Homo sapiens: one gene and its partner. The protein of the gene in region 1 purifies or fractionates together with the protein of each later gene. This does not show direct contact. Each region holds a gene or a part of one and is shown on either strand. Other genes may lie near its edges. The genes, in order: C16orf74 and PPP3CC.

What was found.
Region 2: the proteins of C16orf74 (region 1) and PPP3CC purify together in Homo sapiens (affinity purification with mass spectrometry; one large-scale study listed by BioGRID and IntAct). This does not show direct contact.

Annotation. Positions count from the first base shown.
Region 1 is NC_000016.10:85,748,297-85,752,446, reverse strand, and holds the start of C16orf74 (uncharacterized protein C16orf74), read left to right. Parts: upstream 1-1,350; 5' UTR 1,351-1,521; intron 1,522-4,150.
Region 2 is NC_000008.11:22,520,860-22,524,881, reverse strand, and holds part of PPP3CC (serine/threonine-protein phosphatase 2B catalytic subunit gamma isoform), read right to left. Parts: intron 2,392-4,022; coding exon 2,314-2,391; intron 2,228-2,313; coding exon 2,133-2,227; intron 1,240-2,132; exon of another isoform or gene 1,126-1,239; intron 1-1,125. UniProt on the Homo sapiens protein: Calcium-dependent, calmodulin-stimulated protein phosphatase which plays an essential role in the transduction of intracellular Ca(2+)-mediated signals. Dephosphorylates and activates transcription factor NFATC1.

The DNA of each region.
Region 1 (4,150 bases):
CCTACCCTGAAGCCTCTGAGCTCTTTCTGGCTTTCTAGCCCCTCCCCAGGGATGTGCCCTCAGCAGGGAGCCACCTGCACAGGCCTCCCCCAGCCCAGCAGCTGGGGCAGCAGCTTTGATGGGCACGCCCACCACCCCAGCACCGGCCAGCGGCAGGTCCCATCCTGCCTCCGGAGGGTGGGGACGAATGGAAGGAACGTCCTGCCCCAGGCCTGCCCCTTCTCTTTGTTAGAGGCGGGGGAGTGGGGGACATGATACATTTCCTGCCTGTCAGTCTGGACTCTATAAGGTCAGGGGAACCTAAAGATCGCCCCATTTTTAGGAATGACTCAAGCAGCAGCACACGGCTAGGAAGATGACTCCATTTCCTGCAACTCTTTGCCACATTCACTAAAGGAATGTCACTTTCCTGCTCTGTGACTCAGTTTCCCCTTCTAAGCCTCCAGAAATATATAGGGCAGGGGGTGTGGAGACGTTGGGCTTGTAGGGTGGACAGGGTACCACAGGCTTGTGACAATGACATAGAAAGCACAGGGCAGGCATCTTTCTGTTCCTCCTGCCCCACTGGGCAGGTGTCTGCAGAGGCCTCCACACAGGTAGGGCTGACGGAGGGAGTGTGCCTCCTAAGAAGCTCATCTGGCCAAAAGACCTCTGTGTCCACACCGCGGGGAGCTCTGTGTCCACACCGCGGGGAGGTGGGGGATTCCTCTCCCTGATGCTCATCAAGGTCATCACCAAACACCTGAAGCTGCCCAGGGGGCCAGGAGGCAAGCCCTGACCTCCTTGTAGGCTGCAACCCAGGGTTCGCCCCCGAAGTGGGGTGCAAAGGCTTGCGTGGAGAGCAAAAGGGAACCCCCACAGCTGCAGCCACAGGGAAGGGGCACTGCCTACCAGTCCCTGGGGTCCTGCACAAGGGGAGGGCGGCTGCAGACGGCGAGATGGGGCGGGGGGGCTGTTCTCGCCTCTCCTCTTCGCTTCCGGGCGGCGAGGTCCACTGAACCCGGGCCCCCCAGTATGGGAGGAACCCTGGTGCCCTTTTTCAACACCCAGGGCTGGGGTGCAGGGCCTCAGGGAGCCCGGCACCCAGCCCCGGAGAGGGGCGCACGGTGGGGAGCCCTACGGGCCGCGGCCCAAACTTTCCCCGGGACTGCCCGGGGCCTGGAGGGAGGAAACAGGCAAGCAGCGAGGGGTCGGGACCGCCGCCGAGGGCGCCGGGCGGGTCCTGGCACGCTCCCCAGGGAGGCGACGGGCGGGCCCGCTCCGCCCCGCGCCTGGCCCGTGCAATCCTGGCGCCCGCGGCCCGGCGGCTGCCGTCAGCGCCGCCCTCTAGGAGCGGGGCGGGACCGCGGGAGGCGCGCGGCTGCCCGAGCGCCGGCCGGGCCATGACCCCCGCTGCTCTGTCTTGCAGGCTCGTCGCCGCGGCCCCCCGAGCCCGACCGCCGCCGCCACCACCACCAGCGCCCGGGCGGGCCTCGCGCGCCTCGGGCGCGGCTCCGCAGTGAGCCCACCAAGAAGGAAGCGGTGAGTGCCCCGCGCCTCGTGCCCGCCGCCCCTTCCCCGGGACGCCCGCCTTCCCCGAGCAACGCGGCCCCGGCCGGGCGGCGTCCACGCCTCGCAAGCTCTAGCCGCTGCAGGGGCGCGGCCCGGGGGTCGGTGGGAGACCCACGCGGGCCCGGGCGTCCCCCCAACTTCTTGCAGACTTTGCTGCGGAGACACGGGCTTTGGGAAACTTGGCCCGGCTCTGGCCGCGCTGCAACTTGCACGGCGGTGGGGGTGTGACCCCGCGCGGAAGCCTCTGGCCCCCCACTCACCACAGGCCACCCCGCGCCGTCACGAGTTCCTTGGGAATGGACCAGAACGCCATTCCTGAGAGCTGGAAGGCAGCCCGGCGGGGGGCGGGGGCAGGAGGCCTCCCGAGGAACCATTTCCACTCTATCGAGTATTTCCAAATCTATTATTTATGAACTGCCTCACTTAGGGGCCCCCCTGCGCTCCCAGGGCATCAAAGCAGGTTTGCAACCGCGAAGGGCGACCCGTGTGGACGCACGCGCTCCTTCTCCTGGCTGGCTGCGCTCGAGCGGAACTAGGGGAGGTCTCAGTAAAAAGGGGCACCCGCAGCTCCCCCCAGGGATAGGCGGAGGGCGGGGTCTGAGGGCGGCTGGGACTTCTCTCAGACCGCCTCCGGCTGCGGGGCCCAGATGGAATCAAGGGAAAATCTGTGCAGGCTCGACAGGCTTTGGAGCCCGGAGGAAGAGGGAGGAAGGGAAGGCTGCGAGGCAAAGGCACTTGTGAGGTAGTGCGGTTCTCGGGGAACGAACGCCTCAATGTACAGGTTAGGAAACTGAGGCTCTGAGAGGGATACCCTGAGTCACAGGCTCTGGCGTTTCCTGCCTAGACCCCACCCATCCAACGCTGTGGGGAGGCCCCTGTCCTGGGCTGGGTTAACTCCAAAAAGCACCCTCACCTGTGCAGGCCACGCCCTCCTTGGGTTCTGCGCCCCCACCGCTGGGGACCCGGTCCTGTGGATGGGAGGAGGCCGTGTATTTATGGAAACACTTAATCCCTCACCAGCCCCAAGGAGGCTGAAAGCTCACCACCTAATCTCGTCTCCCTGGAAGCGCCTTCCCATGCCGGTGGGGTGCACCCCAGACCCACGTAGAGTGTATTTTCCCAGCCCAAGGTGCAGGTCACCTCTGGAGACTTGAAATGGGAGCGTGCCGTCAGTGGACACTGAAGAAGAGCGCACTGATAGTTCATGCTTACGGAGCACTCCTCATGCACCAGACCCTGCGTTTTCTGTTTTAATCCCCTGACCAACTCTCCAACCAAATACTGTCAGCCCCATTTTAAAGATGAGGAAACAGGGCCAGGCACAGTGGCTCACGCCTGTGGCTGCAATACTTTGGGATGCCAAAGCAGGAGGAGTGCTTGAGGCCAGGAGTTCGAGACCAGCCTGGGCAACACAGTGAGTCCCCCCAGCTACTAAAAATTTTTTAATGAGCTGGGTGTGGTGCATACCTGTAGTCCCAGCTACTTAGGAGGCTGAGACGGGAGGTTTCCTTGAGCCCAAGAAGTTGAGGCTACAGTGAGCTATGATCACGCCACTGCATTCCAGCCTGGGCAACAGAGGGAGACCCTGTCTCTTAAAAAAATAATAATAAATTAAAAAATAAAAATGAGGAAACAGAAGCTTGTAAAGGCAAAGTCACTGACACAAGGTTACATGGCTGGAAAATGGCAAGGCCAGGCCTGGAACCCTGAGCCGTGGTACTGAATTGCTCTTACCTGCAGTGGAAGCCAGGCTAGGCCTCTGGGCCTGCTAAGTATAATCCCCCATCATTAAAAAGATTAGTAAGTGATGATGGGGCCCAGGCACAGTGGCTCACACCTGTGATCCCAGTGCTTTGGGAGGGTGAGGCACGAGCATCACCTGAGGCCAGGAGTTTGAGACCAACCTGAGCAACATAGTGAGACTCCTTTCTCTAAAAAAAAATAAAATAAAAAAAAAAAAAAAAAAAAAATCAAAGCCTCCCAATCATCTGAATGGACCACTCCCCTTGGCTAAGGGCATTCCAGAGTTAACCTGCAAAGCTAGTTCAGGCCATGATGAGAAGTGGGGTCAGACATGCCTCATTATACTCTCTTGCCTTTTGAAATTGAGACCCCGCAGACCAGCATTAACATCAGTGCAGACCTTCAGACTAATAGGACAGTCCCTTTAAGTCTGATAAGAAACATGTACAATCTGTTCTCTCTCAAGCCAAACTCCTTATCGTAACCCAGACATTCCTTTCTATGGATTCCAGGTCTTTAGATAATAACTCTTTTGGGTTTTTTTGTTGTTTTTTCTTGAGACAGTCTTGCTCTGTCACCCAGGCTGGAGTGCAGTGGCGTGATCTCGGCTCACTGCAACCTCCGCCTCCCAGGCTCAAGTGATTCTCCTGCCTCAGCATCCTGAGTAGCTGGGATTACAGGTGCGTGCCACCATGCCCGGCTAATTTTTGTATTTTTAGTAGAGATGGGGTTTCGCCCTGTTGGTCAGGCTGGCCTCAAACTCCTGACCTCGTGATCCACTCACCTCAGCCTCCCAAATTGCTGGAATTACAGGCGTGAGCCACTGCACCCAGCCCAGATAATAACTCTCTCAACC
Region 2 (4,022 bases), on another chromosome or scaffold:
CACTGTGCCTGGCCAGGACTGTGATGTTAAAAGTTTGCTAAAGAAATAATCAAGAACAAAACCAGGTTAGATTGAGACAAAAAACAAGCTAGCAGTGAGTGAGCTGTATAGTGCCTGCTGACTTAGGTGGCGTGTTTCAGCTTGGCACACTGATAAATCCATTGAGCAATCAATAGATACTCTTTTTGATGAAGTTAAAAAAGAAAGTGAGAAAGAAACACCTTCATTACAAATAGGAGATCTAGGGCCACAAGAGTCCTTGAAGACGTTTAACAACACAAACAGTCCACACCATTGATAAGAGAATAAATAAGAATAAAACCTAAGTTGCTAATATACTGGAAATATCAGGAAAAAGGAAATAACAAATGAACTTAGGGAGAAGCAGAGCATTGTAGGACAGATAAGGCTCAGAGAAGAATGCTAAGTTAAATGAAAACATAAGACTAGGACAGAACTTAAGTTAAAGACATGCTTTTTAAAATAGACAAGTCACTGGAGGACACACTAAAATGACTGACCCAAATCGGATTTAAATGAGATGTGCCATTCCATGGTTTACTTTTAAATAGAGTAAATATTAATTATATTTTGGCCATCTTTGAAACTTATCTCCCCAACTGCATATACAAGGTATAACTATAAAGTAATGAGACTTAAGAAACCACCAGCTACAAACACACCAGACCTTTTTATCAGATGAGTGTGGTCCTTTGATATTATCACATCAGGTACAATAACAGTAAAATCTGTATTATTATAGTAATTTATATTTTGAACAACACTTTAATATCCATTTTCCTTATTCCAACTTATCTTCAACAACCCCATATGACAGATATTTTAAAGATGAGGCTCAGAGAAGTATCTTGTTAAATGTGACACACTTAAAAGTGAAGCAGGACTAGACTGACTCCTTGCTTTGTGTTCTTTTCAGCACAACTTGTTGCCTTACCATATAATTAATCCAGAGATGCTGCCATTACTCAAAACGTTTTTGGAACTCCTCTTTTGGAAGTGCCTCCAGAGCCACTGTATCAGCAACACGAGAAAAACCAGTCTCATTACCTTATAATCATACCTTGTTTCTGACCCCAAATGGTATCATCTAGCTTGATCACTCACCTTATTTATCAGTCTTGACTCCGAATGACTTTTGGCTGTCCAAAAATCAAATCCACCCTCAAAGGACGAAGATTTCCCATCATTGAGGATAATCAAAAGAATGTGTCGCAGACTCTGAAGGCAATGCCAAAAGAGGAGTTCCAAAAATGTTTTTGAACAAGGACAGCATTGTTGGAATAGGTGTGTAGCCTCCCAAGGTAACTACTTTGAAGGGACAATACTCATTTGGATATGTTTGTTCTGGCATGTTTATTTTCAAAGTCCTATTAATTTATAGTCATACTTTATAAACAACAAAATAGTTACAGAAATATGAAGTTTTTAGTAGGACCACTGCCTCGATAGAAAACTTATAAACTATTAATCATAAAAGTTTTAAATTAAAAAAAAGACTTTAACAGGATAAAGTCTTAGAAGTAAAATTTCTGGAACAAAAGGCATGTATATATCCATTCTTCTTTTTTCATATGGGAAACTGAAGATTAGAAAGATAATGTGACTCACTCAAAGTCACAGTATTCGTTTCTGGCAGGGTTTAAACTAAAAATGAAGGTTTTTTTTTGACTTTGTACACTAGGTCACTCTACCTAGACCATATCTCAAGAAAAACAAAAATAGTTTAATAATTCACAAAGATTAAAATACCAATGGTGACTTTGAGATACTGTTATAAACACATTAAATTCACCAAAACCAATAATTTATGCTAACTATTCTGGCATGAGCCTGAAGCAATTTATTCTTCTTATACTTTGATTCTGTAGTATCAATCTGACCTATTATGATCATTATTTATACTCACAAAGAAGCCAGTAATCCTTAGGAGATAAAGACCAAGCAGCAGCATAAATTCTAAATTTCTTGGCCTTTGTTTCAACTAAGACCCCTTTTTTTCTTATTTAAAATTTATGTTTTAAAATGACACAAACACACATACGTACATACAATTAAACCAGAGCTCACGTTTACTCATAAATTCAAACTCAAATATTGCTGGATTCCTTTACCTTTATTGTTATAGACATCTAGGTAATTGGGGGCAGAGAAAATTGTAATAAGTGATGGAAAGCCTGTGGCTTGGCTCTTCCTGTACATTCGATACCTGAAAAAGAGATGAAAGTCCATCTGTCTGCATATTAAATGCAAAGACTCTGCAGCGATATTTGGTACAATTTTAATGTAACTTACCCAGCATCTTGGGCTTCATGGGCTCTGATAATTGATAGTAAATTATTGTTCTGCAAAAATTCACAAACTGCAGGGTAACTGGAAAAGAAAATTAGAAAACATAAATCCAGAATTAAAACAATTTTTTTTAATAGGAAGATGGGGAAAAGTCAAGGTGATATTAGCTGATTTTGTTTCAAAACTACAAGTATTACACACTACTGAAATTTTATGAATAGCTTAGTACTCATCATTCTGTTTCTCTATTTCACTAATATACTTCACTACAGATCAAACATGAAAACAATAGATAATCCTACAATAGAAAGAGCTCCTCCATCTCATCTTTTAATTTTTTTGTCTTAATCCATAACAATACAACACCAAAACTTTTATCAGTGTCTTGATATTACAAAGTACAACAGTAGTGTGTGTGTGTGTGTGTGTGTGCGTGTGTGTGTAGTAGATGCTAAAAATTCAACACATACTTTTCTTCAATTGTCAAATTGTTACAGAAATAAAAGAATATACTTACAGCTTCACAGGTAATATAAACACCAAGATAATATTATGCAGGAATACATATATACATATATATGTATATATATAGGTTTGTTTTTTTTTTTGAGACGGAGTCTTGCTCTGTCGCCCAGGCTGGAGTGCAGTGGTGCAATCTCGGCTCACTGCAAGCTTATGCAGGAATATTTTAGGAGCAGATGTAAATATTTTAGCCAACCATATTCTAAAAAAAGATACAATATTCTCATATACTCCTAAAATATTCTTTTCATACTATTACCTCTCTGAATGACAAATACCTGATAGGAAGAACTGGAGTATACAAAATTAACCTGGAATTACTTAGGCATTAATTATTTAGTTTATTTTTAAAATCTTTGTTTCTCATTATGCTCATTAGAACAAATTTACTTTTAAAGTAGGTTGTAGGTGACGTAAGCAAGATAGCAAAAGAGAATGTCCCCAGCCCTGGTCCTCCTACAGAAACAATAGTTTGGAAGCCATCCATGGCCATAAGTGCCATTGTAAGAACCTTAGGATTGAGGTAGGTGGTTATGAAACCTTGGTGGAGCCCAAGACTAGGAAGGGCTGCTTGGAGAAGGCAGGCCCACTGACCTTTCAGCTACAGACCCAGAATCAGCCTGTCCCTTGTAAACCCGGCTCCAGTCCCACTTGTCTGCAGTCCTACCACCAGCCTCATCCATCCTGGGAAGGAACCATGTCTGTTGATGCCCCTAGTAACAGATCCACCAACCAGACCCAACTGCAGACTCAAAGCAGCACTCTGACCTGGCTCCAGCCCTGCTCTACTGTGGCCAAGAGGAAGTCCTGCCTTAACAGGGGCCTTGTGGAAATCATGCCTGTCCATTCCTCTGGTAAAAGGGCTGCTGATTGGACCCAAACATAAACCCAAACCAGCCTGGGACCCAGCTTGGGTCCCACCCTATTGAGTTCCAGAGACAGCTCTCCCCATCCATGGGACATACTTGTCCATGCCCCTAGTGGTACGCCCACTGACTGTGAACCCTAATGTAGCCCCATAATCTAGCTTCAGCCCTGCTTAATCACAATACCACAGGCAATCCCATCAACCCAGGGACTCAATAGGAGAAGGTATTTACTTGGCGAACGAGTCCATAAAAACTGGAAGGCCCCTGCTCCTTCAAATGCATAGACTCCATTGCAAGGCTATATGAATTATAAAGAACCAG